7 linked regions of the Homo sapiens genome follow. The protein of the gene in region 6 purifies or fractionates together with the protein of the main gene of each other region. This does not show direct contact. Each region holds a gene or a part of one and is shown on either strand. Other genes may lie near its edges.

The links.
Region 1: the proteins of OTUD6B (region 6) and GALC purify together in Homo sapiens (affinity purification with mass spectrometry; 3 studies listed by BioGRID and IntAct, with this or other methods). This does not show direct contact.
Region 2: the proteins of OTUD6B (region 6) and BTBD2 purify together in Homo sapiens (affinity purification with mass spectrometry; one large-scale study listed by BioGRID and IntAct). This does not show direct contact.
Region 3: the proteins of OTUD6B (region 6) and SWAP70 fractionate together in Homo sapiens (co-fractionation; one large-scale study listed by BioGRID). This does not show direct contact.
Region 4: the proteins of OTUD6B (region 6) and KNOP1 purify together in Homo sapiens (affinity purification with mass spectrometry, with the first as the bait; one large-scale study listed by BioGRID). This does not show direct contact.
Region 5: the proteins of OTUD6B (region 6) and SULT1A4 purify together in Homo sapiens (co-immunoprecipitation; one large-scale study listed by IntAct). This does not show direct contact.
Region 7: the proteins of OTUD6B (region 6) and ASCC3 purify together in Homo sapiens (affinity purification with mass spectrometry; one large-scale study listed by BioGRID and IntAct). This does not show direct contact.

Annotation. Positions count from the first base shown.
Region 1 is NC_000014.9:87,940,733-87,945,038, forward strand, and holds part of GALC (galactocerebrosidase isoform a precursor), read right to left. Parts: intron 827-4,306; coding exon 663-826; intron 1-662. UniProt on the Homo sapiens protein: Hydrolyzes the galactose ester bonds of glycolipids such as galactosylceramide and galactosylsphingosine.
Region 2 is NC_000019.10:2,005,094-2,009,399, forward strand, and holds part of BTBD2 (BTB/POZ domain-containing protein 2), read right to left. Parts: intron 1-4,306.
Region 3 is NC_000011.10:9,726,310-9,730,615, reverse strand, and holds part of SWAP70 (switch-associated protein 70), read right to left. Parts: intron 2,564-4,306; coding exon 2,417-2,563; intron 1,274-2,416; coding exon 1,165-1,273; intron 1-1,164.
Region 4 is NC_000016.10:19,704,027-19,708,227, reverse strand, and holds part of KNOP1 (lysine-rich nucleolar protein 1), read left to right. Parts: intron 1-1,006; coding exon 1,007-1,318; 3' UTR 1,319-4,201.
Region 5 is NC_000016.10:29,458,364-29,463,161, forward strand, and holds the start of SULT1A4 (sulfotransferase 1A4), read left to right. Parts: upstream 1-1,549; 5' UTR 1,550-1,622; intron 1,623-3,018; 5' UTR 3,019-3,022; coding exon 3,023-3,170; intron 3,171-3,274; coding exon 3,275-3,400; intron 3,401-3,489; coding exon 3,490-3,587; intron 3,588-4,798. UniProt on the Homo sapiens protein: Sulfotransferase that utilizes 3'-phospho-5'-adenylyl sulfate (PAPS) as sulfonate donor to catalyze the sulfate conjugation of phenolic monoamines (neurotransmitters such as dopamine, (R)-adrenaline/epinephrine, (R)-noradrenaline/norepinephrine and serotonin) and phenolic and catechol drugs.
Region 6 is NC_000008.11:91,076,376-91,080,681, forward strand, and holds part of OTUD6B (deubiquitinase OTUD6B), read left to right. Parts: intron 1-216; coding exon of another isoform or gene 217-356; exon of another isoform or gene 357-357; intron 358-1,980; coding exon 1,981-2,293; intron 2,294-4,293; coding exon 4,294-4,306.
Region 7 is NC_000006.12:100,510,841-100,514,964, reverse strand, and holds part of ASCC3 (activating signal cointegrator 1 complex subunit 3), read left to right. Parts: intron 1-2,046; coding exon 2,047-2,256; intron 2,257-4,124. UniProt on the Homo sapiens protein: ATPase involved both in DNA repair and rescue of stalled ribosomes. 3'-5' DNA helicase involved in repair of alkylated DNA: promotes DNA unwinding to generate single-stranded substrate needed for ALKBH3, enabling ALKBH3 to process alkylated N3-methylcytosine (3mC) within double-stranded regions.

The sequences.
Region 1 (4,306 bases), on a different chromosome or scaffold from region 6:
TATTTTTAAATTAAGGTAAGACGAAAGTCAAGAGACTGAGAATCAAGAAAAGTCACTACCAGTAAGGTCTAGCTTCAAAGGAGTGGTGTGTATCAAAACCAATCTGAAGTGGACACAGTTCAATCTGAACATATTTGAAGCACCTATTCTGGATAAAATATTATCCTACCTAACACAAGGGCTGTAAAGATGACTGAGAAAAGTCAAGCTATTTTCAAGTATTAACTAAATTCAAAAATGAGATTTTTCCATTTTAAGCCGATCAATTCCCCTCCTTATATTTCTATAGGTACAGCAGCAACAGTCGTATACTCTTGCTTTTATTTATGGTGCCTCCTGAGCATTCTCTCCCTACCACCACTACCTCAGATGGTTTTGATACTATCTATGCAAATCCTATCCTCACAGCCCAGTTCAACTCTACAATACCCTTAAAAGCTTTGTACAATTATTTTCCCTTCCACAGAGCTGCCCCCATCTCTAGGAATTAAATAACTTTCTATAATTGTAAACTATTTGGTATTTGCTTACATCCCTTCCCAATTAGATGTCCAAACACCTTGGGTTGAATTCTTTTTATCACTCCCACAAATAACAAGTAGGTGCTCAAAGTAACATAGCCCATAAGTCATATGCTATTAAAAAAAAAAAAAGTCAGTTACCTAAATCACCTGTAACCCTGTAAGATCCATTTGCAAAAATCCAGAAGAAAATTCCTCTGGCACTTCTAATCAAAATACCACCTTTATTTACTCTTCCTGCAATGAACACACCTCCTGTGTCAGGGGTCTCTATGTATACATCACACTTTATAGTCAGATTGGTCCTGCAAAATAAAACGGTTGATTAGTACTCTTTAAAATATGCCCTTTGTAACATAGTACAGATATGTCATTTCACAGCACATGCTTCCAAACTTCTAATTGAGGTGAGAATGTGATTTGCTAAGTCTAAGCCTGTAGCAGAGATGGGCTTCAAGAATCTTTATTGACAACAGTTTTAAATGTTACATGACTTAAGTCATTTCATTGCCTCTTTAAATGATTACTGGACAATAATAGTTATGATTTTTAAGTTTCCTGAGAAAATTTTTTTTCTACAATAAAACAACTTCTCATCTTAAGAATACAATATTTTAAAATGCTACTATTGTCTATGAACACATTAAAAAGTAAAAAGTTCCACACAATTCTGAGGGAAAATGTTTATTCAAACTTCCATCAACAAAGAGAGGCAATGAAGGCAATGCTAGGAGCCTTTGAGAGAACACAAGCTATTCCGGGGCCAACTTTTACATTTAAATCTAACAAAACTTTAAAACTCCAGGAGAAAAGATCTAAAATTATTTTTCTGCAAAGACCACAGAGTTGACTCTCTAGGAGGGCTTCTCACACCTGAACAGCACTGAAATCACCTGGAGGGCTTCTTAAACTCAGTTCACTGGCCCTACCCCACAGCGTGATTCAGTACATCTGGGGCAGCCCCTTGAATGTGCATGTCTAACAAGTTCCCAGGTGATGCTGATGCTGCTCGTCCAGGAATGCCACTTGGAGGACCATTTTCCCCTATGAAGTATCTGTCTATAAGGAAGCAATAAAATCCTGGTTCTAGGCTCACTGATCCACAGCAGTCTATCAAAGATGGGAAAAGATTCAGCTGTCCAGGGACTACCAGAGCTTTTACAGTGAGCTCTCCTCCAGGTTTCCTCTTACAAATGCTACCAGGTACAACACTTTCCTTCTGGAATGCTACAACCACCCCAAACCAACATGATCTCTGAAAATATTTCACTTCCTACTCAGTATCTAACTGCAAGTGGGAAGAAAAAGAAAGCCTGCACATAACCAAGTCATAAATCAAGCAATATATCTCACATAAAACTGGAAACACCAAGAAATCCATTCTGGAAATGGGCTGGGGGGAATGAGATCTAGAATTATGTGGCTTTTACATTTCTGTGTCTTATCAGTGAATTTTGCACAGTGAAATTTTACTACATAAAGGAAAATATTACAGAAGTACCTACATCAGCTACACAGGGAGGACAATCCACACTTAATTATCTAAGCAGAGCTGGACTACTTTACAGGAAGATAAATGCTAAGTAACTCAAGCCCAGTCTCTCTTGTATGTCCTCTGACATCAGAGGGAGTTTTCTCTCCATAGATTATCACCAGCATGAAACCACTGGCAATCAACACTGGTACTTACATCCCTTACCTCCTTTCTGGTTCATCAGAAGTTTGAAAGTGCTACAAATACCATCAGCACCATAAAATTATTCTATTTAGAGTTGGAATGAGAGAAGATCAAACTTTCCTTTTCTATATACCACATTCCAGAATAAGTGATTCTTGCATCAGAACTTGCCAGGCAATTTCACAGATAATGAATGAAATGGAATAAAAGTGTGGTTTATTCTTCCACAGCCACAATCTCTCAGTAATGCTGAAAGAACAAAAACTAGCCAATACATAAGGCAAATTTGATCCAAGAGAGTTCATCTGTGTGCAGGGAAAGGTAATTTTGTGATTGTCTTTAAAGGATTCCAACCAATGCTCACTATCAAGATAGAAGTAGCCAGTTATAGTACAATCTATCCCATATAATCAAATTACTGTGCTGGTAAATGACTAAATCTAGGTATAAGAGAGGAAGTTCTACTCAAAACACAAGTCTAAAAACTGTGAGTAGTGTGCACTCATTGAGAGCAGATTTACTAAAATAGCACTACAGATAAACTAAACAAATTTCTCATTTCCTACCTTTAGGAAGAAGATGATTAAAATGAGGCTGTGAGATGTACTCCAAAGAGAATGGGCTACTCAGTCACACAGACCCGGCTTCTAGCCCTTGTTCTGCCACTTACAAGTGAAATATTGGGTAAATCTTATTCCAAAGATGCAGTTTCTCAGTCTGCAAGGTGGGGACGATGATATCTCCACCATAAAGTGGTTGTGTGGGAAATCCATCAAAGTGCCTACTATTACCCAATTTTTATTCCCTCCTTTTCCCACAATAAGTGGGCACAGCAGCCAGACAACAGAAATGAACAAGGGATTTGTGTGGATCTCTGAGCAGATCTGGCTGCCTCAAATAGAGGGTGGAATACTGGAAAATAACACATAATAGATGAGACCAAATTATAAAGGGTCTTGGAAATCAAGCCTAGAAGTGGAAAACACAGGTAGCAGGACAGAGTCACTGCATCTTCCTGAGCAGGGGAATAACATGATGAAAACAGGGCTTCAGAAAGATGAAGGCAGGCCTTTCTTGACACGCAAAATTGCAACTTCCCGGTTCCTTTCCTTTCAGAATATGTCACTCTCTTCCCTTCTACACCCTTCCCCATCCCTCGTCCCCACCTCCTTACCCACTGCAATAGATCCTAGTAAAAACTGAGTATTGCTATTTAAATTGTGAAGATGTATATGAAGATTCAAATATATGAAGATCTGGGGGAGTAAATCTTTGGATGGTGCTATATCTCACTTCTATACTACAATTAAGGGGCTTCTCAATCTTTTTGGAGTCCCAGCCAGAAATAAGATTGAGTTTGAGTTTAGAAAGAGCCCTCTATGGTATTCAAGTGCATGGGGTATAGGGGATGTCACAGAAAAAAAAGTTTCCTATACGGCGACTTCAAAACTGGAGATCAAAACAATGGGACCCAGGCCTTGGACACTTAAACCCAGCCACTGGACTTAAAATAAGACCATCAGTCACAAATAAGGATGCCAAGAACTCCACTACCATAACTGGAAAATCTAGGTAAAGTTTCCACCTCAGAGACAATGGGACAAGCAGAAATTCTGCGTAAAAACACAAGCCACAAATGTCATCCTAAATTAGGAAGGAATTCTTCACTGCACCTCAATAACTCTTCATAGTGTTATAAGGGTTCCAGGGGCTCTGGATAACTAAAAGTTTCTTAAGACTTATGTCAGAGCTTGGGACTAGAATCAGGATTTCTAACTGGGAGTAAGGCACTTCAGGAGGGATAAACACTTTCTGCACACTCCATAGACAGGCAATTCAAGGCTCTTTTCAGAATTCTTTTCTCTTCCCTCTCCAGTTTCCAAGCTTCGGATATGGCTTTTTGGTGGCTTGGTATTACTAGTACTAGCTCTAAACCTGGAATGTGTATGTGTTTCTTTTCCCACAGTGGAATCATACTAGTTATAGGAAAAAATGAAAAAGAAACACATGACAGGTGGAATAAGTCAGCACATAGAAATTCTGTAACTAAAGAGGAAGGGAAAGTTTTAGTTTGGCATTATATTTTATGTGAATAATATAACTTGTC
Region 2 (4,306 bases), on a different chromosome or scaffold from region 6:
ACAGGCGTGAGCCACTGCGCCCAGCCAGGAATTCTTTTGACTGCCAAATTCCATGGAATCTGTGAACCGCGGTTTGTTTCTGCACTCACTGGCTGGTCTGCGGGTTTTCCGGTTTTGAGCTACTGTGAATCATGCTGCTCTGGGCATTCACGCACGAGGCTGTGTGAGGACACAGATTCTCCTTCTCCTGGATAAATGCCTCGGAGTGGAATGACCCTGACGTTTAACATTTTCTTTTTTGAGGCAGGGTCTCACTCTGTCACCCAGGCTGGAGTGCAGTGCTATGATCACAGCTCACTGCAGCCTTGACTTCCTGGGCTCAAGTGATCCTCTCACCTCAGCCTCCTGAGTATCCGGGACTAGGGCGTGCACCACCATGCCTGGCTAATTTTTAAAATTATTTTTTAGCCAGGCGCAGTGGCTCATGTCTGTCATCCCAGCACTTTGGGAGGCCGAGGCGGGTGGATCACCTGAGGTCAGGAGTTCGAGACCAGCCTGACCAATAGGATGAAACGCCATCTCTCCTAAAAATACAAAACGTAGTCAGGTGCAGTGGCCGGAGCCTGTAATCCCAGCTACTAAGGAGGCTGAGACAGGAGAATCGCTTGAACCTGGGAGGCAGAGGTTGCAGTGAACCAAGATCACACCATCGCGCTCCAGCCTGGGAACAAGAGCAAAACTCCGTCTCAAAAAAAAAAAAAAAAATTATTTTTTAGCCAAAGCAGTGGCTCACACCTGTAATCCCAGTGCTTTGGGAGGCCAAGTTGGGAGGATCACCTGAACCCACAAGTTCAAGACCAGCCTGAGCAACACAGCAGACCCCATCTCTACTAAACAGAAAAAAATCAGCCGAGCATAGTGGTGCATGTCTATAGTCCCAGCTACTTGGGAGGCTAAGGTGGGAGGACTGTTTGAGCCCAGAAGCTGGAGGCTGCAGTGAGCTATGATCGAGCCACTGAACTCCAGTGTGGGTGACAGAGTGAGACCCTGTCTCTAAAAAAAAAAAAAAAAATTTAATTTTTAAAAAGTCTAAGAGTCCAAGGGGTCAATACTAGACACACATGGCTATTTAAATCTATATCCAAATTCAGCTGAATTCAACATTCAACTCCTCGGTCACACTGTCCACATCTGTAGTCCGTACTGGCACATGAGTGCCTAGTATTGGACAGCACACATCCAAACCATCCCGCTTACTACAGGATACTCTACTGCAGAGCACAAGACCACAGAAAAACTGTTAAACCTAATAAGGCTTCAGGAAGAAACAGTTCAAACCAGATAAAAGTAAACATGCCAGCTACTCGGGAGGCTGAGGCAGGAGAATCACTTGAACCCAGGAAGCGGAGCTTGCAGTGAGCTGACACTGTGCCACTGCACTCCAGCCTGGGCGACAGAGCGAGACTCCGTCTCAAAAAAAAAAAAAAAGAAAAGAAAAATCACCCAACTTTATGTCCTTAGAAAGACCAATCTCCTCAGTAAATTCCTTTATCACTTGACAAACTGATTCTCAAGATCATCAGGCACCGTTAGCCCAGGGCTGGCAAACTATGGCCCTTAGAGTGAATCTGGCCCACCACTTGTTTTTGTAAATTAAGTTTTTTTTTTTTCTGAGACGGAGTTTCACTCTTGTTGACCAGGCTGGCCTGCACTGGCACTACCTCAGCTCACTGCAACCTCCTCCTCCCAGATTCAAGCGATTCTCCTGCCTCAGCCTCCTACGTAGCTGGGATTACAGGTGCTCACCACCATGCCCAGCTAATTTTTTTATTTTTTATTTTTTTGAGACGGTCTCACTCTATCGCCCAGGCTGGAGTGCAGTGACGCGATCTCGGCTCGCTGCAACCTCTGCTGCCCAGGTTCAAGCAATTCTCCTGCCTCAGCCTCCCAAGCAGCTGGGATTACAGGCGCTCGCCACCACGCCCGGCTAATTTTTGTATATTTAGTAGAGATGGGGTTTCACCATCTTGGCCAGGCTGGTCTTGAACTCCTGACCTCATGATCCACCTGCCTCGGCCTCCCAAAGTGCTGGGATTACAGGCGTGAGCCACTGCGCCCAGCCACTTTTTGTATTTTTAGTAGAGACGGAGTATCACCATGTTGGCCAGGCTGGTCTTGAACTCCTGACCTGAGGTGATACTCCTGCCTCGGCCTCCGAAAGTGCCAGGATTACAGGTGTAATCCACTGCACCTGGCCAATAAAGTTTTATTAGAACACAGCTCTTCTTGCTCAGTTACATGTTGTTGATTTATGGCTTTTTGTGCTGCTACGGCAGAATTAAGTAGCTGCAACTGAGACAGTATGGCCTGCCAAAAATATTTACTATCTGACCCTTCACATGAATTTGCTGGCACCTGTGTCTTTTATCTGTTTTGGTTTTGTTTTACACACAGTCAAGGTCTCACTATGTTGCCCACACTGGTACCAAACTCTTGGCTTCAAAAGATCTTCCCGCCTTAGGCCAGGGACGGTAGCTCACACCTGTAATCCCAGTACTTTGGGAGGCCGGGGATAGCCTGAGGTCAGGAGTTTGAGACCAGCCCGGCCAAAATGGCGAAACCCCGTCTCTAAAAATACAAAAATTAGCCGGGTGTGGTGGTGCACACCTGTAATCCCAGCCACTCGGGAGGCTGAGGCAAGAGAACTGCCGGGAACCCAGGAGGCAGAGCTTTGCAGCGAGCCAAGATCATGCCACTGCACTTCAGCCTGGGCAACAGAGCGAGACTCTGTCTCAAAAAATAATAAAACAAAACACAGAATATAAGTTCCATAAGGAAGGAGATGTTTTTCTGTCATATGCACCTCCTGTAGCCAGGACTGTATTTCAGTGAGTATCTGTAGGGTGGACAGATGGGTGGATGTGGGTGACTGATTCTAGAAGAGTAATAAATGTGTCAGACCAGCTGAGAAAGTCTTTTTTTTTTTTTGAGACAGAATTTTACTCTTTTTGCCCAGGCTGGAGTGCAGCAGCACGATCTCAGCTCACTGCAACCTCCACCTCCCAGGTTCAAGCAATTCTCCTGCCTCAACCTCCCGAGTAGCTGGGATTACAGGCACCTGCCACCACGCCTGGCTAATTTTGTATTTTTAGTAGAGACAAGGTTTCACTATGTTTGCCAGGCTGCTCTCAAACTCCTGACCTCAGGTGATCCGCCTGCCTCAGCCTCCCAAAGTGCTGGGATTACAGGGGTGAGCCACTGCGCCCACTCTTTTTTTTTTTTTCTAGGTGGAGTCTCGCTGTGTTGCCCAAGCTGGAGCCCAGTCGTGCGATCTCAGATCACCACAACCTCTGCCACCCAGGTTTAAGCGGTTCTCCTGCCTCAGCCTCTCAAGCAGCAGGTGCAAGCCACCATGCCTGGGTACTTTTTGTATTTTTAATACAGACAGAGTTTCACTATGTTGGCCAAGTTGATCTCGAACTCCTGACCTCAGGTGATCTGCCCGCCTTGGCCTCCCAAAATGCTGGGATTACAGGCGTGAGCCACTGTGCCCAGCTTTTTTTTTTTTTTTTTTTAGGGACAGAGTCTCACTCTATCGCCCAGGATGGAGTGCAGTGGTAGGATCATGGCTCACTGCAGCGGCAACCTCCCAGGCTCAGGTGATCCTCCTACCCGAGCCTCCTGAGTAGCAGGGACCACAGGCACACACCACCATGTCCAAGTAATGAGGTCTCGCTATATTGGCCAGACTGGTCTCGAACTCCTGGGGTCAAGTGATCCTCCCACCTCAGCCTCCCAAAGTGCTGGGATTACAGATGTGAGCCACTGCACTCAGCCTGAAAAGTCTTCACAAAGAATAAAGTTGGGAAGAATTTGGTGAGCAGTTCTCAAAACATACCACAAAGCAGCAATCATCAAACAATGTGTTATGGGAACAAGGACTCACAAAGCAGTCAATGAAATGTGAGACCCCAGAACACACTGTTCTTTTTTTTTTTTTTCCAAGACAGAGTCTCGCTTTGTCACCCAGGCTGAAGTGCAGTGGCACAATCCTGGCTCACTGCAACCTCCGCCTCCCAGGTTCAAACGATTATCCTGCCTCAGCCTCCCCAGTAGCTGGGGTTACAGGCGCTCGCCACCACGCCCGGCTAATTTTTGTGGTTTTTCTTTTTTCTTCTTTTTTGAGGCGGAGTCTCAGTCTGTCACCCAGGTTGGAGTGTGGTGGCGTGATCTTGGCTCACTGCAACCTCCGCCTCCCGGGTTCAAGCAATTCTCCTGCCTCAGCCTCCCAAGTAGCTGGGATTACAGGTGCCCACCGCCACACCAGGCTAATTTTTTGTATTTTTAGTAGAGACGGGGTTTCACC
Region 3 (4,306 bases), on a different chromosome or scaffold from region 6:
TTAAAATTCTTCACAGTCCTTAAAAGGGAAAATTCTATATTCTTCAAATAATAAGAATAAGTAAAACCTAAAATCTCTAAGATATGGAATCAACCCAGGTGTCCACCAACAGTTGTAGTGTGTGCATACACACATATACCTTGGAATACTATTCAGTCATAAAAAAAGAATGAAATAATGTCTTTTGCAGCAATATGGATAGAACTGGAGGCTATTATCTTGAAGTATTTCTTGAAATAACCCATAAACAGAACATAAAATACATGTTCTTTTTTTTTTTTTTTTTTTAAGTAGAGACGGGGTTTCACCGTGTTAGCCAGGATGGTCTCGATCTCCCAACTTCATGATCCACCCGCCTCTGCCTCCCAAAGTGCTGGGATTATAGGCATGAGCCACCGCACTCGGCCTACATGTTCTTATTTATAAGTGGGAACTAAAATATGTGTACACATGGACATACAGCAAGGAATAATAGACATTGGAGACTCAGAAATGTGGGAAGGCAGGAGGCCGGCAAGGGATGAGAAATTACCTAACAGCAACTATGCGAGTGATGATTACACTAAAAGCCCAGATTTCATCACTACACAATATATCACTGTAGCAGAACTATACTTGCAACCCCAAAATCTATTTAAAAAGTAAATCTCCCATTTATAATTTACCCAAAGTTCATTATGCAAATAAAACTAATGAAAACTTTGAGAGCGCATCTTAATTTGTTTTTCTCTCAGCTACTGTATCACATGCAGAAAATAACTACAATGAGGAAGTAACGCCTTAGCATCCTTCATGAGATTCAAAACTAGAAAGTCAGAGCTCTCGGCCAGGCGTAGTGGCTCACGCCTGTAATCCCAGCACTTTGGGAGGCCAAGGCAGGTGGATCACAAGGTCAGGAGATTGAGACCAGCGTGACCAACATGGTGAAACCCCGTCTCTACTAAAATTACAAAAACATTAGCTGGGCGTGGTGGCTATAGTCCCAGCTACTCTGGAGGCTGAGACAGGATAATTGCTTGAACCCAGGAGGTGGAGGTTGCAGTAAGCCAAGATAGCACCACTGCACTACAGCCCGGGCAACAGAGCAAGACTCCGTCTCAGAAAAAAAAAAGAAAGTCAGAGCTTTCAAGTTATATCATGGCAAATAATAAAAAATCACCTTACCTTGAATCCACTCCTGTTTCTTCTTCTTATCTGAAGCACTGATTTCAAAAGTCTTATCAAAACATTTTACGAGAAAAAGGCATTTCTTTCCATCTTTGTCAGGCAAGGACTAAAACAGAAAGCAAAATTAGTTCCTCAAAATTTTAAGTATTTAAATGAAATTCAATTTGAATTATTTATAAAAATGAGCTGAAACTTAATGTCAATGAAAAATACCTATAAATTCATATTACTGATTTACTAATGCTGTTTCCTAAGCACATTACTTATGGTAAAAATGACCCCAGTTGGTATACTACATCTAGACTGGTAAAACTATAAACACCTGATAGGATGCCATGCATTGGGATTTCCTGAGTATAGCAGCTCTTATCCTGAGCACCTCCCTTGCAGGAATCCTGGAAGGTACATCTGTGATGATGTTACAAGAGGTATTAACTCCTATGGGATATGAAGCACCTAAGCCAGGGTGATTCCTACATCTGCTTAATGTGGCTTTCTCTTCTTGCACTTGGAATGTTGTGGCTGGCAACCCGTGGTTTCTGTCCTATATGTTTATGAGTAAACTGGCCTTTGGTAACCTTGTAGATCTCCATGTTTAGTTAAATCTAAGCAGACTCCTTCATGGGCATCACACATCTCAAGACATTATTATTCACTAAAATACATTATAGTTTATGTGTGAGATTTCAGGTATTTAAATGTTCTTCAACACATACAGACACGGGGACAGTTCATATAAAAATTAAAAACTCAAAAATTTATGTTCTTGAGAATTTCACTTCTTTAAAGAATTAGTACCTATGAATAAAGTGTCCTGAAAGTCACCCAAAGTATTCAAAGACAATGCTTACATCTTCTTTTATTTCTTGCACTCAAAATGTCCCAGATTTTCTGGCATATTCTTTATTCCAAATATTGTCTTACTGAACTTTTTTTTACTTTATTATCTCTTTTATGACTCCATTTTATTCAATAAATGATTCCTTAAATGTTCCAATAAATGATTTAATCCTTATACTTTATTCACGAGTAGAAGGTTGAAAATAAATTCACATTAGAAAAAAATTTTGTCAGCTATGTTTAATTTTTGGTTCAGAAACCATGGCAACTGCATGCCTATATTATTTTGGAAATGTAAATTTGGGGATTATTTTAAGGTTCTAGAGTCTAGGTGGAAGAAGGTGAGAAGCTACTTCAGCATCAGGGGGCAGCACGGGGTAATCATGCAAAGAAGTAAGAGTAGACTCACCTCTACACAGCAATTTTCATCCAAGAGAATGTCTCCTTTCTTATCCTTCAGATCCTCACTCACATAGTAAGAAATTATGTTGGGTTTTAGTACAAACCATCTTTCAGTCCAGTTTTTCCGTCTGTGGCCCTTTTTCATCATGTAACCCTGTGAAAGATTAAATGTGATATAAATTATTGTCTTTTTATTTGTAAGAGCTGACATCTCTTCCTTGATATACTTGCCTACTCCATTATTTGATATATGATCCTGAAAACATGAACACCAATTGTTCTTGGATCCTCTGAGAATCTATGGAGGGGCATTACACCTAGTCATGCAAGCATAACCAGACAAAAATTTGCATATAATTTCAGACACTTCAGAGACAACCCCTCCCCAAAGTGATATGCAGACAATAGAATCCCCTTGACATTAAGTAGCATTTGAGATTTCTAAAAAATCATTATCTTTTAGAGATACCTATTGAAATATTTATAAACAAAATAAAATACCTGAGATTTGCTTCAAAATAATACAGGAGAGGTAAAAGTAGGTGGGGTAGGATTAGCCACATGGTGGTGGTTACTGGAGCTGGTTGATGCATATGTGGGAGTTCATTATACTGGTCTATTCCACTTAAAAAGAAAGAATGAACCCCTAACAATGATTCTCTGTAAATTAAAACCTCGATCAGGCCTGATGCAGTGGCTCATGCCTGTAATCCCAGCACTTTGGGAGGCCAAGGCAGGAGGATCGCTTGAGGCCAGGAGTTCAAGATCAGTGTGGGCAACATAGTGAGACTTCATTTCTACAAAAAAAAAATTTTTTTTTAGGAGTGTCGCTCTGTCGCCCAGGCTGGAGTGCAGTGGGTGCAATCTCGGCTCACTGCAACCTCTCTGCCTCCTAGGTTCAAATGATTCTCCTGCCTCAGCCTCCTGAGTAGCTGGGACTACAAGCGCATGCCACCATGCCTGGCTAATTTTTGAATTTTTAATAGAGATGGGGTTTCAACATGTTGGCCAGATGGTCTCAAGCTCCTGACCTCGTGATCCGCCCACCTCAGCCTCCCAAAGTGCTGGGATTATAGGCGTGAGCCACCACGTCCAGCCAAAATTTTTAAATAAAATAAGTAAAACCTCAGTCACTGAAAATGTTAAATGACTGAGGTAAGTAAAACCTCAATCAATGAAAATGCTAAAGCTTGGCCACATATATCTTCTAAACCAAATATTCAAGGACTTCCACCTCTGGTACCAACCTACCTTTCTGCCTGACCTCTCAATATTCTGAAGGAGGAACTCTGCCCCAGACCAACAGGAAAATACTGCACCAGGAGTTCAAATACTGGCTTCTAAATGTGGCTTCTAAGCTCACACTCACTAGTTCTGTATTTCCTTCCCACAGACTGGCCTCAAAGGTGTGTGACTCAAATGTTTACTTAAGCAAAATTATACATTATTATAGGCCAAAGCCCTTCAGGCTTGTTTAAGAATAGCTGCTATTTTTAGTATTAAATCTACAGGTGCTGATAGCGCATGATAGAATATACATATCATTAAATATATATGATATTGATTGTAAGTTTCAGTTGGTTATTATATTAAGTTCTAATCATATTACATATTCAGTTTCCTAATCTTTGGACATTTAAGCAAAAGCTATCTCATACGGCAATTCTACTACAGTCATATCCTGCCATCCTAAGAGGCTGAGAATTCCACTTCAGATGGAGACCACGTCTCATACCTCTTTGTAGCACCAAAAACCTATACAAATTCAGCCTCAACATTTATGATGTGCTCCATTAGGAAAAAAAAGAACAAAGACAACACTATTACCTATGGAAGAAAGAAAGGATCAAAGTAAGGAAATCCCAAATCAGTTATTATTCAATATAATAATGTAAGA
Region 4 (4,201 bases), on a different chromosome or scaffold from region 6:
TTGGCTGTGTGACCTTTTACCCCTGTGGGCCCGCACCCGTTCCCGCCATAAAACAGTGCTTCTGAGAAGCACACTTCAGATTCCCACTCGCCCTCTCCCACCCTCCAATTCACCCAAACGTTAGGCTGCTGGGTGAGTGCGCCCGGCTGCTGGGCTGTGGGGTGCCCTGTGTTGCAGGGGAGGTGCGCCCTGTGGGGAGGTGGGGGAGGTGTGCTGTCTTGTGAGATGCATGGTGGGGTGAGGTGCGCTGTGTAGGGAGGTGGGGGGAGGTGCGCTGTATAGGGAGTGGGGGAAGTGCTATGTAGGGAGGTGGGGGAGTGTGCTGTGTAGGGAGGTGGGGGGAGTGCGATGTGTAGGGTGGTGGGGGGAGTGCACTGTGTAGCGTGGTTAGGGGAGGTGCGCTTTGTAGGATGGTAGGGGGAGAGTGTGCTGTGTAGCGTGGTGGGAGGAGGTGCGCCATGTGCGCCGTGTAGGGAGGTGGGGGGAGTGCTCTGTGTAGGGTCGTGGGGGGAGTGTGCTCTGTAGAGTGGTGGGGGAGTGTGCTGTGTAGGGAGGTGGGGGAGGGGAGGTGCACTGTGTAGGGAGGTGGGGGGAAATGCTTAGTGTAGGGTGGTGGGGGGAGTGCGCTGTTGTGAAGTGAGGCACACTGTGCCGTGTGCCATGAGTTAGGAAAGGAGGAGGAAGGCAGAAAGGCAGCTCTGTGCAGAGGTGGGCAGTGGTGTTGGCTGGACCTGGGCTGGAATTCTGGGGGTCACTAGTTAGGTTTCTGTCTCCAGCTAAGCTGCAGACCTCTATTTTCTCCTCTGTGCAATGGGAATAACAACAGTGTTTCTCATAGGGCTGTCTTTAGGATTAACGGAATAATCCGTTGTTGAGCTTATTAGCACTGTGCCTGGTACACAGCAGCCATCTAATCTGCTGGGCCCTCCCTGATGAGGGTGGGGGTCAAGGGAAGGAAAGGGCTTTGAACTCAAGGAAAATAGCCACCTTTTTCCTCTCCTCACAGGGAACCCAGTTTGGCCAGTGGGATACTGCTGGTTTTGAGAACGAGGACCAAAAACTGAAATTTCTCAGACTTATGGGTGGCTTCAAAAACCTGTCCCCTTCGTTCAGCCGCCCCGCCAGCACGATTGCAAGGCCCAACATGGCCCTCGGCAAGAAGGCGGCTGACAGCCTGCAGCAGAATCTGCAGCGGGACTACGACCGGGCCATGAGCTGGAAGTACAGCCGGGGAGCCGGCCTCGGCTTCTCCACCGCCCCCAACAAGATCTTTTACATTGACAGGAACGCTTCCAAGTCAGTCAAGCTGGAAGATTAAACTCTAGAGTTTTGTCCCCCCAAAACTGCCACAATTGCTTTGATTATTCCATTTATGCTGGAGATTACAAATTTTTTTTGTGAAAAAATCAGATCTTGGTGAGGACCTCGAGCAGTAAGATATAAATAACTCCCATAAGCTTAGCGTTCCAGTAATGGAACACTAGGCATAAATGGTTTATTCAGTTGTGCAAATGAAAGCCATCTGACAGTTGGCTCACATTGAACACCTGTGGAGATTAAGGACGAGGACAACTATATTGATGGGCTTGGATGAACTGGGGCAGGGCAGCTCATATTTCGGGAGCCAGGAGAACGAGTGAGTGCTAAAACCTCCTGTTTTCTGTGTTAAACATTCCGTCCCTGTTTGAGACATCAGTATGTACAGTTAACTTTTGTTGAGTGTTTAGCAGGTACTAGGGACATACTAGTGTTTTCCTTAATGTATTTAATCTTCATAATTATGAAATGGGTGCTATTATTAGCCCCATCTTATAGATGAGGCAACTGAGGTTCAGGGATAAAGTAATAAAATTGCCTGGGGTCACCCAGCCACTAAGTGCAGGGTGTTGTACTTTTGTACCCGAAGCCCTAAGTTCACTATTCGCCACTCTGAATGTCCCCTTTAGGGAATTTCCACCAGAATCCTCGTTGGGGATTGAAATGTCTTTAGATGGAGGAAAAAGTTTTATGACAAGTCTGCATCTCTGATAAAAAGTGGAGTGAATGAGGAACGGAGAATCGCAAACTCCTTTTCCTTCCTTTTCCTTTCCCCTGTCATAGAGCAGCTGTAGGCAGAGAGGTGTCTGAGTTGTTACCAAACACATGTGACTGAGCTGCTGCTGCTGGGAAATGTGCCTCTAAACCAGTCCTGCCTTTTCCACTGGTGTCCCTTCGGCCCTAAGTGCTGAGGTAGGATTTTTGTGCTTTGACTGGATTCTGAACAAGGCATTTTAGGAAGAGTGGTTAGTCCCGCAAATGAATCAATGGCAGATCCCAGGGACGTGTGTGTGTGTTTTGAGATAGGCTCTCACTCTGTCACCCAGGCTGGAGTGTAGTGGCATATCACGGCTTGTTGCAACCACTACCTATCCAGCTTAAGTGATCCTCCCACCTCAGCCTCCCAAGTAGCTGGGACTGTGGGTGTGCACCACAACAACCAGCTAGTGTTTAAAATTTTTTGTAGAGATGGGGTCTCACTATATTGTCCAGGCTAGTCCCAAACTCCTGGACTCAACTCATGCTCCTGCCTCAGCCCCCAAGAGCTGGGATCACAGGTGTGAGCCACTGTGCCCAGCCCCAGGGATGTGTCTGATGAGATTCTTTTTTATCACAAGGAAGAGAATCCCAGGTGACTTCTGTAGGTGGATATTGAATGCCAGGAGGAGATGAACGTGTGGAGATGACACGGGAAGTTGCCTCATCGGCTGTGGGGACAGCGTTTCCAAGCCTGGACTCTACAGCAAGCCTCAAAGAGCTCCAGGTCCAGTGGCCCAAGTCGCATGTGACCATCTGTGACCACCTTCTTTCCACTCACCTAGCTTTTTGCATCCCAAAATACAGGTTCTGACTGGGACATTTTCACGATCGTTTGGCCTGAACATGCCTCCTACAGACATCCCAGCCCAGGCAGGCCTCGATGGCCAGAAAGTTCAGTCTCACGTGGCAGGAAGGCCTGATTAGGGCCTGGTTCAACAGCTCGCCAAGGAAGCATTCTCTCCATCATCTCCAGTGTTGGCTTCATCAAGGCTAGTACAAAGATGGCAGTAACAGTTCCAGGCAGCATATCAAGACCCTAGAACATTCCAGAGGAAGAAAAGCCTTTTTGTGTCTCAAGGAAACTTCCAGAAGCCTCCATTGCTGGGCAATGAGTCATCTGCCCATAGCTGCACCCGCCCCTGTCATGGGAAGGCTGGTGATTCCCTTCAGTCAAGAAGAGTGGATGCTGGTGAAGTGGCCATGGTGTCCACAGCTGCCCATTGGGCAGAGGTGAGGCAGGCACTTCAGGCAGTTTCCCTGGCTCTGAACCCTGATCCGCAAGCATTGGCCAGGTCAATAGTTGGACAAGTATGTGCTACAAGGACCTACTTGGGCCACTTCCCTCAGGACGTGAACTTGTCCTGCCTTTCTTTCCTGGATTCAACCTTGAGATACATAATGGGAGAGGCCGTGGAAAGCCCAAGAGGCAGTGTTCTGGATTTGAGTGAGTGCCTTCTGGGCACCTCCTCCTTTGATGGAGAAACAAATCCCTCCTGACCTTGAGCAACACTACAGGAATGTGCCTGGTGTAAACAGGAACCAGCCGTTCGTTTCTTTTTTTTTGAGATGGAGTCTCACGGTCGCGCAGGCTGGAGTGTGGTGGCGTGATCTCGGCTCATTGTAACCTCTGCTTCCTGGGTTCAAGCGATTCTTGTGCCTCAGTCTCCTGAGTAGCTGGAATCGGCCGTTTACTACTCATAGTTTTTATCTTGCCAAGAGGTCACCCTGACGTTGGCCTGCCTTAGCTCTGTTAAAAAGGTTGTGCTCTGCCAGGTGCGGTGACTCACGCCTGTAATCCCAGCACTTTGGGAGGCCAAGGTGGGCGGATCACGAGGTCAAGAGTTCGAGACCAGCCTGACCAACATGGTGAAACCCCGTCTCTACTAAAAATACAAAAATTAGCTGGGTGGGTGTGGTGTCACGGGCTTGTAATCCCGGCTACTCAGGAGGCTGACAGGAGAATCGCTTGAACCCGGGAGGTGGAGGTTGTAGTGAGCTGGGATGGTGCCACTGCACACTCTAGCCCCGGGCAACAGAATGAGACTCTGTCTCAAAAACAAACAAAAAAAAACTGTCTTTGGGTGATTGTGGAGAGGTGATCATATGTCCGCTGTGTTGCTCCCAT
Region 5 (4,798 bases), on a different chromosome or scaffold from region 6:
CCCATGCCTCAGCTTTCCCCTACTTGCCTCTGAGCTCATGCAATTCTTGGAAGCCTGGGAGACTTACCTTGAAATTGAATGCAAATAGGACAAAGACCAAGGAGGATGGGGGGATGCCCTCCTTCCACGGGGCCCTGTGGCTTCCAAGTCTTAATCTCCTCTAGTCTCTTGTCTACGGAGCCTCCTTCAAACCCAGGGAAAGAAAAGCACCTGCCAGGGTTGTTTTTCTTCTAGGATCTTCTATTGATGCTCTGTGAGGTCCCCCAGGAGCCATGAAGCTAGGGCTGGCTCCTAGGGCAATGGGACTACAGTGTCCTTGTCCTTTCTTATTCTTTCTGTTCTTTCTTTCTTTCTTTTTTTTTTTTTTTTTTTTTTTTTGAGACAGAGTCTCACTCTGTTGCCCAGGCTGGAGTGCAGTGGTGTGATCTTGGCTCACTGAAACCTCCGCCTCCTGGGTTCAAGTGATTCTCTTGCCTCAGCCTCCTGAGTAGCTAGGATTACAGGTGCCCGCCATCATGCCCAGCTAATTTTTGTATTTTTAGTAGAGACAGGGTTTCACCATGTTGGCCAGCTTGGTCTCGAACTCCTGACCTCAGGTGATCCTGCTGCATCGACCTCCCAAAGTACTGGGATTACAGGCGTGAGCCACCACGCTCAGCCTCTTTCTTGTTCTATATGTCCATGCTCTGCTCCACTTCTGCCCCTTCACTCTGCCCCCACACATCACTCCAGACTGGCCTTGTGGTCAGAGCCTGGAATGCCTGGGCTGCTGGGGGCCTGTGGACTGCACTGGGCCAGAACCCCTGCCGCCTTCAAGACTGGCCTGTAGCCAGCAGGTAGGTGACTTTTCCCAGGCCGGCCTATCCCACCTTTCCCCTCCACTCACTCACCTCCCTTGCCTGGGTCAATTAGAGAAAGCTTGTCGGCCAGGCATGGTGGCTCATGCCTGTAATCTCAGCACTTTGGGAGGCCGAGGCGGGCGGATCATCTGAGCTCAGGAGTTTGAGACCAGCCTGGCCAACATGGCAAAACCCCGTCTCTACTAAAAATACAAAAATTAACCGGATGTGGTGGTGTGCACCTGTAATCCCAGCTACTCGGGAGGCTGAGGCAGAAGAATCGCTTGAACCCAGGAGGGGGAGGTTACAGTGAGCGGAGATCGTGCTACTGCATTGCAGCCTGGGCGAGAGAGCGAGTCTCCATCTCATATAAAAAAAAGAAAAAGAAAGAAAGAAAGCTTGTCTGTTGGCCTGCCCTGCAGGGTGGAGTTCAGAGGGAAGGTCAGGAGCCTAGTGACAGCTCAAAAAAAAAAAAACCCAAATACCAATGTTGGCCCCTTTTGCCTTTCATTCATGTGTTTTCTATACACTAAACTCACATATTGGGTTTGCAGATCACTCCAAGCTTGGCTGGAGCTGTGGTGGTAAGGAGGGTAATAGAGAAGCTTCCCCACCCTCAACCCCACCCCTTCCTTCCTGGAGTTCCCAGCCCTGACTTTAGATCCCTCCCACACTGGACCTTCAAAACCCTCAGGGCAGAGAGCAGCCCTACACTCCCTACACCACACCCATACTCAGCCCCTGCAGGCAAGGAGAGAACAGGTCAGGTTCCCGAGAGCTCAGGTGAGTGACACGTTGGAATGGCCCAGGGCACCTTCACCCTGCTCAGCTTGTGGCTCCAACATTCTAGAAGCCGAGGCCTCTGCCATCCCTGCCCTTTCCCATGGATATTCCATTTCAATTAGACAACCCAGCCTGGCCGGAATCCCCCTGCGTTCCTTCTTTTCCTTTGTGTATTTTTGAGACAGGGTGTTGCTCCGTCACCCAGGCTGGAGTGTAGTGGGATCCTGGCCCACTGCAGCCTCAAATTCCTAGGCTGAGGCAATCCTGCCGCCTCAGCCTCCTGAGTAGCTGGGGTTACAAGAGCAAGCCACCACACCCAGCTAATTTTGAAAAATATTTTTTGTAGAGGAGAGGTCTTGCTTTGTTGTCCAGGTTGGTCTCAAACTCCAGGGCTCAAGGGATCCTTTCCCGTTGGCCTCCCAAGGCTCTGGGATTACAGGCGGGAGTCACCCTGCCTGGGCCCCTCCTTTTGATGAGTCATCAGTTTTCATTCCCGCACGAGGCTCTAGCCCCTGGTACCAGCTTAGTTGCTCAATGGGCTGTGTTTGTTCTGGAGCCCAGATGGACTGTGGCCAGGCAAGTGGATCACAGACCTGGCCGGCCTGGGAGGTTTCCACATGTGAGGGGCATGAGGGGGGCTCAAGGAGGGGAGCATCGGGGAGAGGAGCGCACTGGGTGGAGGCTGGGGGTCCCAGCAGGAAATGGTGAGACAAAGGGCGCTGGCTGGCAGGGAGACAGCACAGGCAGGCCCTAGAGCTTCCTCAGCACAGCTGGACTCTCCTGGAGACCTTCACACACCCTGATATCTGGGCCCCGCGCTACGAGGGTGCTTTCACTGGTCTGCACTATGCCCCAGGCCCTGGGATTTTGAACAGCTCTGCAGGTGACTGAAAGGTGCGGCCAGGCTGGGGAACGACCTGGTTTCAGCCCCAGCCCCGCCACTGACTGACTTTGTGAGTGCGGGCAAGTCACTCAGCCTCCCTAGGCCTCAGTGACTTCCCTGAAAGCAAAAACTCTGCAAAGGGGCAGCTGGGTGCTGGCTCACACCTGTAATCCCAGCACTTTGGGAGGCTGAGGTAGACAAATCACTTGAGGCCAGGAGTTCTAGACCAGCCTGGCCAACATGGTGAAACCCCATCTCTACTAAAGAAAAAAAAAAATTAGCTGAGCATGGTTGTACATGCTTGTAATCCCAGCTACTTGGGATGCCGAGGCGGGAGGATTGCTTGAACCCAAGAGGTGGAGTTTGCAGTGAGCTGAGATTGTGCCACACTGCACTCCAGCTTGGGTGAGAGTGAGACTCCATCTCAAAAAAAAAAAAAAAAAGAGAGAATCCCACTTTCTTGCTGTTGTGATGGTGGTAAGGGAACGGGCCTGGCTCTGGCCCCTGATGCAGGAACATGGAGCTGATCCAGGACACCTCCCGCCCGCCACTGGAGTACGTGAAGGGGGTCCCGCTCATCAAGTACTTTGCAGAGGCACTGGGGCCCCTGCAGAGCTTCCAAGCCCGACCTGATGACCTGCTCATCAACACCTACCCCAAGTCTGGTAAGTGAGGAGGGCCACCCACCCTCTCCCAGGCGGCAGTCCCCACCTTGGTCAGCAAGGTCGTGCCCTCAGCCTGCTCACCTCCTATCTCCCTCCCTCTCCAGGCACCACCTGGGTGAGCCAGATACTGGACATGATCTACCAGGGCGGCGACCTAGAGAAGTGTAACCGGGCTCCCATCTACGTACGGGTGCCCTTCCTTGAGGTCAATGATCCAGGGGAACCCTCAGGTGCATGGCTGGGTCCTGGGGGTAAGGGAAGTGGAGGAAGACAGGGCTGGGGCTTCAGCTCACCAGACCTTCCCTGACCCACTACTCAGGGCTGGAGACTCTGAAAGACACACCGCCCCCACGGCTCATCAAGTCACACCTGCCCCTGGCTCTGCTCCCTCAGACTCTGTTGGATCAGAAGGTCAAGGTGAGGCCGGGCTCAATGGTTCACACCTGTCATCCCAGTTTGAGACTGAGGAGGGAGGATCCCTTGAAGGCGAGAGATGGAGACCAGCCTGGGCAACATTGCTGTAGAGATGACATCCCATCTCTACAAAAATAAAATTAACAACCTGGTATGGTGGCATAGACTGTTCCCAGTTACTTAGGAGGCTCAGCGGGGAGGACTGTTTATGCAAATAGGAAGCTGCAATGAGCCCTGATGATCCTGCTGCTGCACTCCAGCCTGGGCAACACAGCAAAACCATCTCTACGAAAAAAAAGTTCCCACTGACTGGCAAGGAAAGCCAGGAAGGGGGGCTCAGGTGCCCTCTCAGCCATGTACCTGTTCTTCTGGAAGGGCCTCCTCGCTTCTGCCAGGCTCATCACATCTTTTTTTTTTTTGAGACAGAGTCTTGCTCTGTCACCCTGGCTGGAGTGCAGTGGCATGATCTCAGCTCACTGCAACCTCCGCCTCCCCAGTTCAAGTGATTCTCCTGCCTCAGCCTCCTGAGTAGCTGGGATTACAGGCGTGTGCTACCACACCCGGCTAATTTTTGTATTCTTTTTAGTAGAGACGGGGTTTCACCATGTTGGTCAAGTGGATCTCAAACTCTTGACCTTGTGATCCTCCTGCCTCGACCTCACAAAGTGCTGGAATTACAGGCGTGAGCCACCGCGCCTGGCCCTTTTTTTTTTTGAGACAGTTTCACTCTTGTTGCCGAGGCTAGAGCGCAATCGTGTGATCTCGGTTCACTGCAACCACCGCCTCCTGGGTTCAAGCAATTCTCCTGCTTCAGCCTCCCAAGGAGCTGGGATTACAGGTACCTGCCACCACGCCCGGCTAATTTTGTATTTTTAGTAGAGATGGGGTTTCACCATGTTGGTCAGGCTGGTCTTGAACTCCTGACCTCAGGTGATCTGGCCACCTTGGCCTCCCAAAGTGCCGGGATTAGAGGCATGAGCCACCACGCCCAGCCTTCATCACATCTTGAGAGAGGACACTGTCTGCCTCTTGCTCTGATGAGGGTCTGATGCAAGGATAGTGAGTCTCTACAGTGCACACTTAAGAAAGGCAGCATGTGGGTGCTCACAGGTCAGCGGAGGAGGGGGAGCTGGTGGGGACCAGGCATGCCTTGCTCCAGATCAGGATATGATGGCATTGGTGCAGATTATATTAGTATAGAATATGGTCTCAGG
Region 6 (4,306 bases):
ATTCAGTGGATTTCTTACCTAGTGCCCTGAAAAGGAAACTCAATTGCTTTGTTCTAATGAAGCAAAGCATGAAGGGAAAAAAATGAAATGATTAGAATTAGTATTTTAGAGGCTTAAACAGTTTTGCAGATAAGATAAAGTGCCACTCTTTCAGTAAATAGTACATGACATCATTAACTCCAGCTCCCATCTGCTCCAACTTTTATTCTGATTCAGGTGCCTGGATAGAAGGAGCTCTCTGTGTTGTCCTTGGTCCCTGCTCTGCTCTTACCAGCTGTATGGCCTTTGGAAATCTTTCTGCGTGCTGTTTCCTCAGAAGAGGAAAATGAGGGGTTTTGGATTAGATGATATCTAAGGTGCTTATTCTTCCTTTCCCCTCTGAAACTTTTTTAGTCTTTTATAAAGTAATAGTGCCATCTTGTGTTTTAAGATATTATGCCTCTGTGATCCACAGTTCTAGGTACACAGTGAAATAAATTTGTTCCTATTACTTATACAAACCTTAAATAGGCTATGTTTTATTAGGGAGATATTACTGCTTTTGATTCAGGTAACTTAGAAATCACTTTAGGTTCATCTAGCATGGCACATAACAGGCAAGTAGTACAGGTACATGACAATAAGTTTAATTGAAACTTGCCTTCCCATTCACTTTTGTTCCAAGGAGAAATCAGAGCTAGTGTTATGGAAGTCTTTACCTTTTCCTATTCTTGGCTTACCAAATCCTTCACTGTAACTTATTAATGTCAAAATTTATATAACTTAGTTTTTATTCTTAAATTATAAAGCAGTTTCCGCTTGAGTGTACAAACAAAATATATGATAGAGAATTAGAAAGATGCAGAAAAACATACAGACATACACACACATACACATACACACACCCCAAAATAAAACTTATTTTGGAATCCCGTCATCCAGAAAAAAGCACTATAAATACTTTGTGTATATTGTAGTTTCTTTTTAGTCCTATGTTAAGTATAGACCTACTGTATATTAATTATATGCCTATGCTTTTTGCCTCCAATTTCATCTCTTGACAGTTTTCTCTGGCACTGTAGCTCTAGGAACTGTTTTTAGCTATGAAACATATAGTGCTTTCTGGCTTTTGATCATTACTAGTCCATCTGTTAGGAATTTTTTTTCCTTTCTTCTTCCCCAACCTTCCCTATACACCTCCTGTCTATTCTTCATGTCACAAATCTCTCATTTCCGTCACCCCACTCCATCCTTGCATATGTTTCCATGGGAGGAGCTTATCAGACATTTGCATAAGGAAAGCAAATTGTAGAATGTAACATATGATACCATTTTTATTAAGAATTTATACATATTTTCAAGAGTATACCATATTTATTAAAATGAATGGAAAAACAATCTAGAAGGATGCATACCAAACCTCTAGAGCAAGCACTGGGATGGCAGTGGTGTTATGGGGAGCTTGAGTCTCTCTCTTATATTTTAATTTTTTTTTTACAAAATATTTGTTAATTAAATGTATGTGTATACAGACATTTTAAAAAGCTTGATAAAAAGGGTGTCTGCCTGTACCCTTTTAAAGGCTGTGTCATATTAACACGTTACTGGTGGACTGATAAGAAGCCTGGATTAGCCTGGGCTTTAATATAATAATAATGTGCTTTAAGGCCTAGGATAACTCAGTCTTAAGAGAATACTTTGAAATCAGTAAGTAAGGTTTTTAGAAACTTGGCATGTAGCCTTTAAGTAGACTTTAAAGAAAAATTAGAGGGCTTTCTTAATGTCCAGTATAGAGCAAGGTGCTGGAAACACACAGATGAGTAAGAGAGTAAGGAGCTCACCTTGTAGAAAATTCTTGAGATGATCAATGTGATAGTGTTTGTGCGAGAAGGGAGAATAAACACCGGAAAGTTTTGAGACCTTTACATTTCCCTTCCCTTAATAAATGAGAATTAGTCCAAATTATTATGAATTAACTTTCATGCATTCTGCTTTTCTTAGGAAAAGAAAGCTGCATTGGAAAAGGAGCGAGAAGAACGGATAGCTGAAGCTGAAATTGAAAACTTAACAGGAGCCAGACATATGGAAAGTGAGAAACTTGCTCAAATATTGGCAGCTAGACAGTTAGAAATTAAACAGATTCCATCTGATGGCCACTGTATGTATAAAGCCATTGAAGATCAACTGAAAGAAAAGGATTGTGCTCTGACTGTGGTTGCCTTGAGAAGTCAGACCGCTGAGTATATGCAAAGCCATGTGGAAGACTTTCTGCCATTTTTAACAAACCCTAATACAGGAGATATGTATACTCCAGGTAATTTATTTTTCTTTACTATGTTTTATTGTTGCTTTGTTGTAGTTGTTTTTAAATAAGGTGCTTCCCAGCACTGAGCGTAAGAAGAACCCAGATGATCCTTATGAGGAAAAAACATCACAAGATTTAGGCAGAATTATTTTCTGTAATTTTAATAGATGTTGGTGTATTTTTCTCTATTAAGATTTCTTAATTACTTAGTTATTTTGTAATTATAATATGCTAATCATTTTATGTAAGATAGAAGTAGGAATAAGAGTCATTTTTGAAAAAAATGTAAGTTCTTATTTGACAAAGTGAAGTATTGAGGAAGGTAAGCTTCAGGAAGTATATATAGGGTCTGAAGACCATAAGGAGAGAATGACTAGGAAAACCATTTCCTGCTTTTATCTTATAATTTGGGAACTTTACTTTTATTTACAATAAGCTATAATTAGGAAGATTAGTGTTCAAGTAAAACAAATGGGTTAATAACCTGCTTTATTCTATACAATACTATCACAGTTAAGATAAAATATTTATGAGGAAGTAAAAAAGTACACAACTAGCAGATGAGGAAGAGAGCAAGTAAAAATCTGAATAGGTTTTGGGGTAGTAATGAATGGAATAGAGGACTATTAGTCCTTGAGAGAATATGGCAGGTTTGGCAGTATCCATTGTTCCCACAAGTCATATGGCCAGAATGGGTTGCAGAGAGAAAGGTTAAAATTGACTTTCCTTTAGTGGAGTCTGTCCTCCATGGAGGAAAGGTAGAGAGTGATGCAGAATTGATAAGAATGAGCATTGGCAGTCAAGTGTGTCTCCTTTAGTGTGCATGGCTTAAGGTATCTGTTGATAGATTTCAAGAATGACTTAAGCATAATCTAATTCTGTAGTGAATTAATTTCCCATAGATGTCATATTGGAAATGTTAACTTATCTCTTGCTGTTTTAGGTCATTGCTGTTTTCTACATAAACAGAATTTGCTATGGGACATAAAACACATTTTTCCATATATTTTGATATATGCATAGGCAATGTGATAAATGACTCTTCTGTCATTTATCTCCCAAATGATTACTGAATCATTGAAACTCCCCAATTGCGCTAGTTGTAGGGCATAGAGGAGGTGGCAGTTCAGTATGCTGAGTCAGAGAAAAACACAAAAGACTTAATTAATTATCTCCATTTATTCAACCAATATTAATTGAAGGCCGCTGTGTGCCAAGCACTACTCTAGGCACTGTTCTGAACGCTGAGGATTTAACAGGGTATGAGACAAACACATGAGACATATTTTTCTTCTAGATGTCCATAATTTCTTTCCTTCCATCTCTGTAGTAAGGATAATTGTTTTCCATTTTAACATACTGTGTAAAAAGGTGTATGCACAAAATATACCCATTGTAAATTTAGTGATTAGGTCTTTTATTTCTCAGGGCTGATGTGAAAAGCCTTTTCCTTGGTTAGAACTGATACTTATGCAAGTAATGTAAGTGCTTCCAAAATAACAAGTGGAGGCACTGTTTGACGCTATCTCTGGGGAAGGAATTTCAATTCATCTGTACTTTTACTCGAATTCTCTTCGTATATTTCCCAGAGTCTTACAGTAAACCTGATTATACAGGAACTACATTTTTTTTGTCTTTCATGGTATTCCTTTGGATGCAGGTTTGGGCTTCAAAACACATGTCAAGATAGTGAATATGGTGGCAATTTTTGGGGTCAACGCTTGGGGTAGAGTGAGGTAGGTTTGTTATATAGGGAGGGTATCTGGGCCTCCAACAGAAGAAGAAAAGCAGAAATGGACTGCTTTGTTCTTGGATGGAAATGTGGTAGAAAGTTGGGGTGAATTAAGTTTGGACCTGGGAGTTAGATTAGATTCTGGAGGATAATGGTAGAGAAGGAGAATGTTCATAACTTGGGCATTTTTGTCAGGAATTGTGGGAACTATAAAAGGGATTTTGTAACATGAGTTACAAAAATTATTAAGTGCTGTATTCTGACCTAATCTCTACAGAAGAATTTCAGAA
Region 7 (4,124 bases), on a different chromosome or scaffold from region 6:
GCAATCTGGTGCCGGCTCTGCAGTGAGGCGATCCCAGGTAACATACAAATCCTGAATTATTCCAGAAATTAGTATGTTTAAAGCATCAATTTAAGTGCTAATTGCAGTAGTAATGAGAAAAAGCAGTATGACTGTGAGATTTGCATCTTCTACCCCATCAGTATGCCTGGAACGGCTGCTGACTGGCAGAGGATTTGGCTGCTAATTAAATAATTGTATGCATGGTAGTGCTCTTGCCTGATTCAATAGATGAAGATTAATCCTCAGATAAATATGTTTGGCTGGTATTGAAATGTCTTAGCAGTTTCTTTAAAAATAGTTCATGTTTTATATACATAAATATATATATATATATCCAATAAATATATGTGTACACATTGTAGATTGAAAATAATAATAACATTAAGTCCTACAAAAATTACATATATATAAAAGCCAGATATGACATTTGGGGACTTTGTAAAGTAAAATCCCAATGAGTTACTAATAACAAAACATTATATTGGTAACTGATTTAATGGTACAGGTAAAGAAACATAACAAGTCTTGCTTCATGGGGTAAATGTTACTTGTGCTGTCTGACAAAGTCAAATGCTTTACAGAAATTGTGTTTTTAAGTCCCCTTAACCCCTTTTCCAGACTGGCCAGTCCTAGAAGAACATCTAGTGGTACAGCTTCTATACTTAGTGACTATGGGTTCTAGCAGGGGATAGACCATCCTTTGTACAGGTTGTACAGATTGAAGTACCATCTGTGGCTTGACTACTTCAAAATCCAGTTCAAGACATGATTTCAGATTGATAAGACAAGTTATAGGATTGGAGTTGAATTGAAAATTTGCATTGAATTTACATTTTTTTTAATTCCTAAGGGGTAGTTTGGTTCATCAGGACTACTTCATTTCAATTAGGTATACTCAGCAGCACTAAGCAAAATCAAAGCCTATAAGGAAATCTATAGTATATATTAAAGGAATAAAAGAAAAACCAAAATTAAAGTACCATGTACTTTTAAAAACTAACTGAGAAGGTAACAACTGATTAAAAAAAAAAAAGCCAATGTATTGAGAAGTTTTCTTGACTGATGGTGATATTGCCATATAAGTGTATATGTTAGAAAAAGATGACCTCAAGTTTTTTGTTACATCTTTTCTGTAGACCTAGGTATTCTCATTCATTCATTCATTATTGTTGAGCACTTGCTATTTGAATACTGATTTTTTACAAATGTCTTTCCACTTCAAGAGCAAGTATAAAGTTAGGTAAAATATCTTTTAATGTGTCATTTTAATTGGTATTCTCAGTATGATGATGCCAAAAATTCATATTTGTTTCTAGAAGGAACCCTAGACTTATAGAATTCCTTATGATATAAAATATAAAGAATTTTTTTCTGAATAAATAGGGCAAATTTGAAATATGGGCCAAAAAATGTACAATAAGTGGTCAGTGGAGGATTCTAACATCAATAATTGAATTACAAAAATATTTTCACATTGCCCTTTTATCCCCAAGTAATGCTCTCCTTCTTAGAAGCCATGTGAATGTCTGAATAGATGCTTCTCTAAAACAAACCAGTTCGATAACAGACATTTTTTAACTTGTTTTATTTTAATATAGTCAACAGCTGCTCAGTATCAGGAAGGATTTACAATAAAGGAATCACAAGTTTAAATAATGATAAGCCCTCTTTTAGTTATTTTTACAAAGACATTAAAAAGACTAAAAGCACAATATTCTTACACATACATGCATATAGACACAAATACAAGAAAAATTGGGGAAATCTGAACAAAATCACTGGATTATGTTAATGTCAATATCCTAGTAGTAATAAGTACCGTAGTTTTGAAAAATGCTACCTTTGGAGGAAACTGGGTAAATGGTCCACAGAATGTCTCTGTATTATTTCCTGCAACTGCATTGGATCTAGAATTAATCTCAACATTAAAAGGTTAATTTTCGTCTAAAAGCACACTATTTCTTAATTGATCATTGCATTTCACATAAACTCCTCCTTTATTGTTTCTTTTCTCTTTTTATTTAGGCATGGAATTTCTTATCTCACTTGCCAGTGATAAATGTTGGCATAAGTGTTAAAGGCTCGTGGGATGACTTAGTTGAAGGACATAATGAACTCTCTGTCTCAACTCTGACTGCAGACAAACGAGATGACAACAAATGGATCAAATTGCATGCTGACCAAGAGTATGTGCTTCAAGTGAGCTTGCAGAGAGTCCACTTTGGGTTCCACAAGGTATAGTGTTTGGTTTCCATTCTCAAATATTTCACACCAAATACCAGCATGCACCACCACACATATCTGTTATGTGACTAATGTGCCCGTGTCATTCATGAATCCTGCTTTCTCAACTGGTCTTAAGCAGCGAGAGTTAGTCTTTTGAAATTCGTGAGTTCTCCTCATGTGTCATTTTTCAGCCCCAGAAAATCTACCTTACATAAGAATATATTGCCTAGAGTACTATTCTCAAAGTATGGTATACAGACTCTGGCCAGCAGAATTTCCTGGAGTGCCTTTTAAAGTGCAGATTCCTTGGCCCCACTCCAGACTGGCTGAATCAGAACCTCAAGGAGGCGGGAATCTCAAAATCTATACCTTCACTCAGTGCCCCACATGATTTTTAAGGGCCTTAAAGCTTGAGCAGTACTGGCCTAGAGGCACTTTGGTATACAGGAACCACATTGGGCTAGATGTAGATGAGACTGAAGCTTTACCACTTAGCTCTATGAATTTGAATAAGACATTAAGCTTTTCTGAGCCTCAGTTGCCACATTTGCCTGCGTCCTTCATTATAATGCATAGGAGAGCTTTGTCAATGTTCATACAGGCAAAAATGTACAGTATTTTTATTTTAGATTACTATGCTCTTTTCTGTTGCCTCTGATTATCTGGTCCTCTAAGAATATTAGTACACAGCAGGTGGGCAGATTGGTTTTTAGTGCCATAATAATTAAAATAAGAAAGAATTAGTCTTCTTTTTGGTCCAGTGGATTCAGGGCTTTCCCATATCTAGAATAAGCCCTCAGGGGTGAAGCTGTAGTTCATAAGTATTGTCCCTTCTGTTCTCACACACAAAATGATCAGTAACTTTCTATTCTTAAGATGTTCTTTCAGTATTGTACCTTCAAGTCTCACCTCATTTGATTTCTAATTCTAAAAAAGTCTGTCAGTGTAAGTATTAACTGATTGGCCTCTGGCATTTCAGAGGCTTTAGTATGAGCTTTTTTTTTTGATACGAAGTCTCACTGTGTCGCCCAGACTTGGCTCACTGCAACCTCCACCTCCTGGGTTCAAGCATTTCTCCTGCTTCAGCCTCCCAAATAGCTGGGTTTTACAGGCATGTGCCACTACACTCAACTAATTTTTTGTATTTTTAGTAGAGATAGGGTTTCACCATGTTGACCAGCTCATCTTGAACTCCTGACCTCAAATGATCCACCTGCCTCTGCCTCCCAAAGTTCTGGGATTACCAGCATGAGCCACCACACCTGACCTTAATATGAGGTTTCATTTGTTTGTTTGTTTGAGATGGAATTTCACTTATGTTATCCAGGCTGGAGTACAAGGGTGCAACATCAGCTCCCTGCAACCTCCGCCTCCCGGGTTTAAGCAATTCTCCTTCCTCAGCATCCCGAGTAACTGGGATTACAGGTGCCTGCCACCATACCCAGCTAATTTTTTGTATTATGTTGGCCAGGCTGGTCTCAAACTCCTGACCTCAGGTGATCCACCTGCCTTGGCCTCCCAAAGTGTTGGGATTACAGGCGTGACCCACTGCACCTGGCAATATGAGCATTTTTTAGATGACTTAATGTATTCCAACTTATAAAAAAAAGTAATAATTACAAACTAATAATAGTAATAATAAAAATAGCAACAATCATAAAGATAAAATCATGGGGGAAAACTATGATTTTTTTACCTTAATATTCTACTTAAAGCTTAGATTTAATCATGCCAGAAAATCTCTTAATTTTTGTTTCTGAATGCTGTAAAAATATATTACTCTCTGACTCCCTTTTGAAATACTGTAAGTGAAACATCTCCCTCTAGAATACTGAGTGAAGTCTGAGAATGTATCATTATTACTATATTTTATGCCA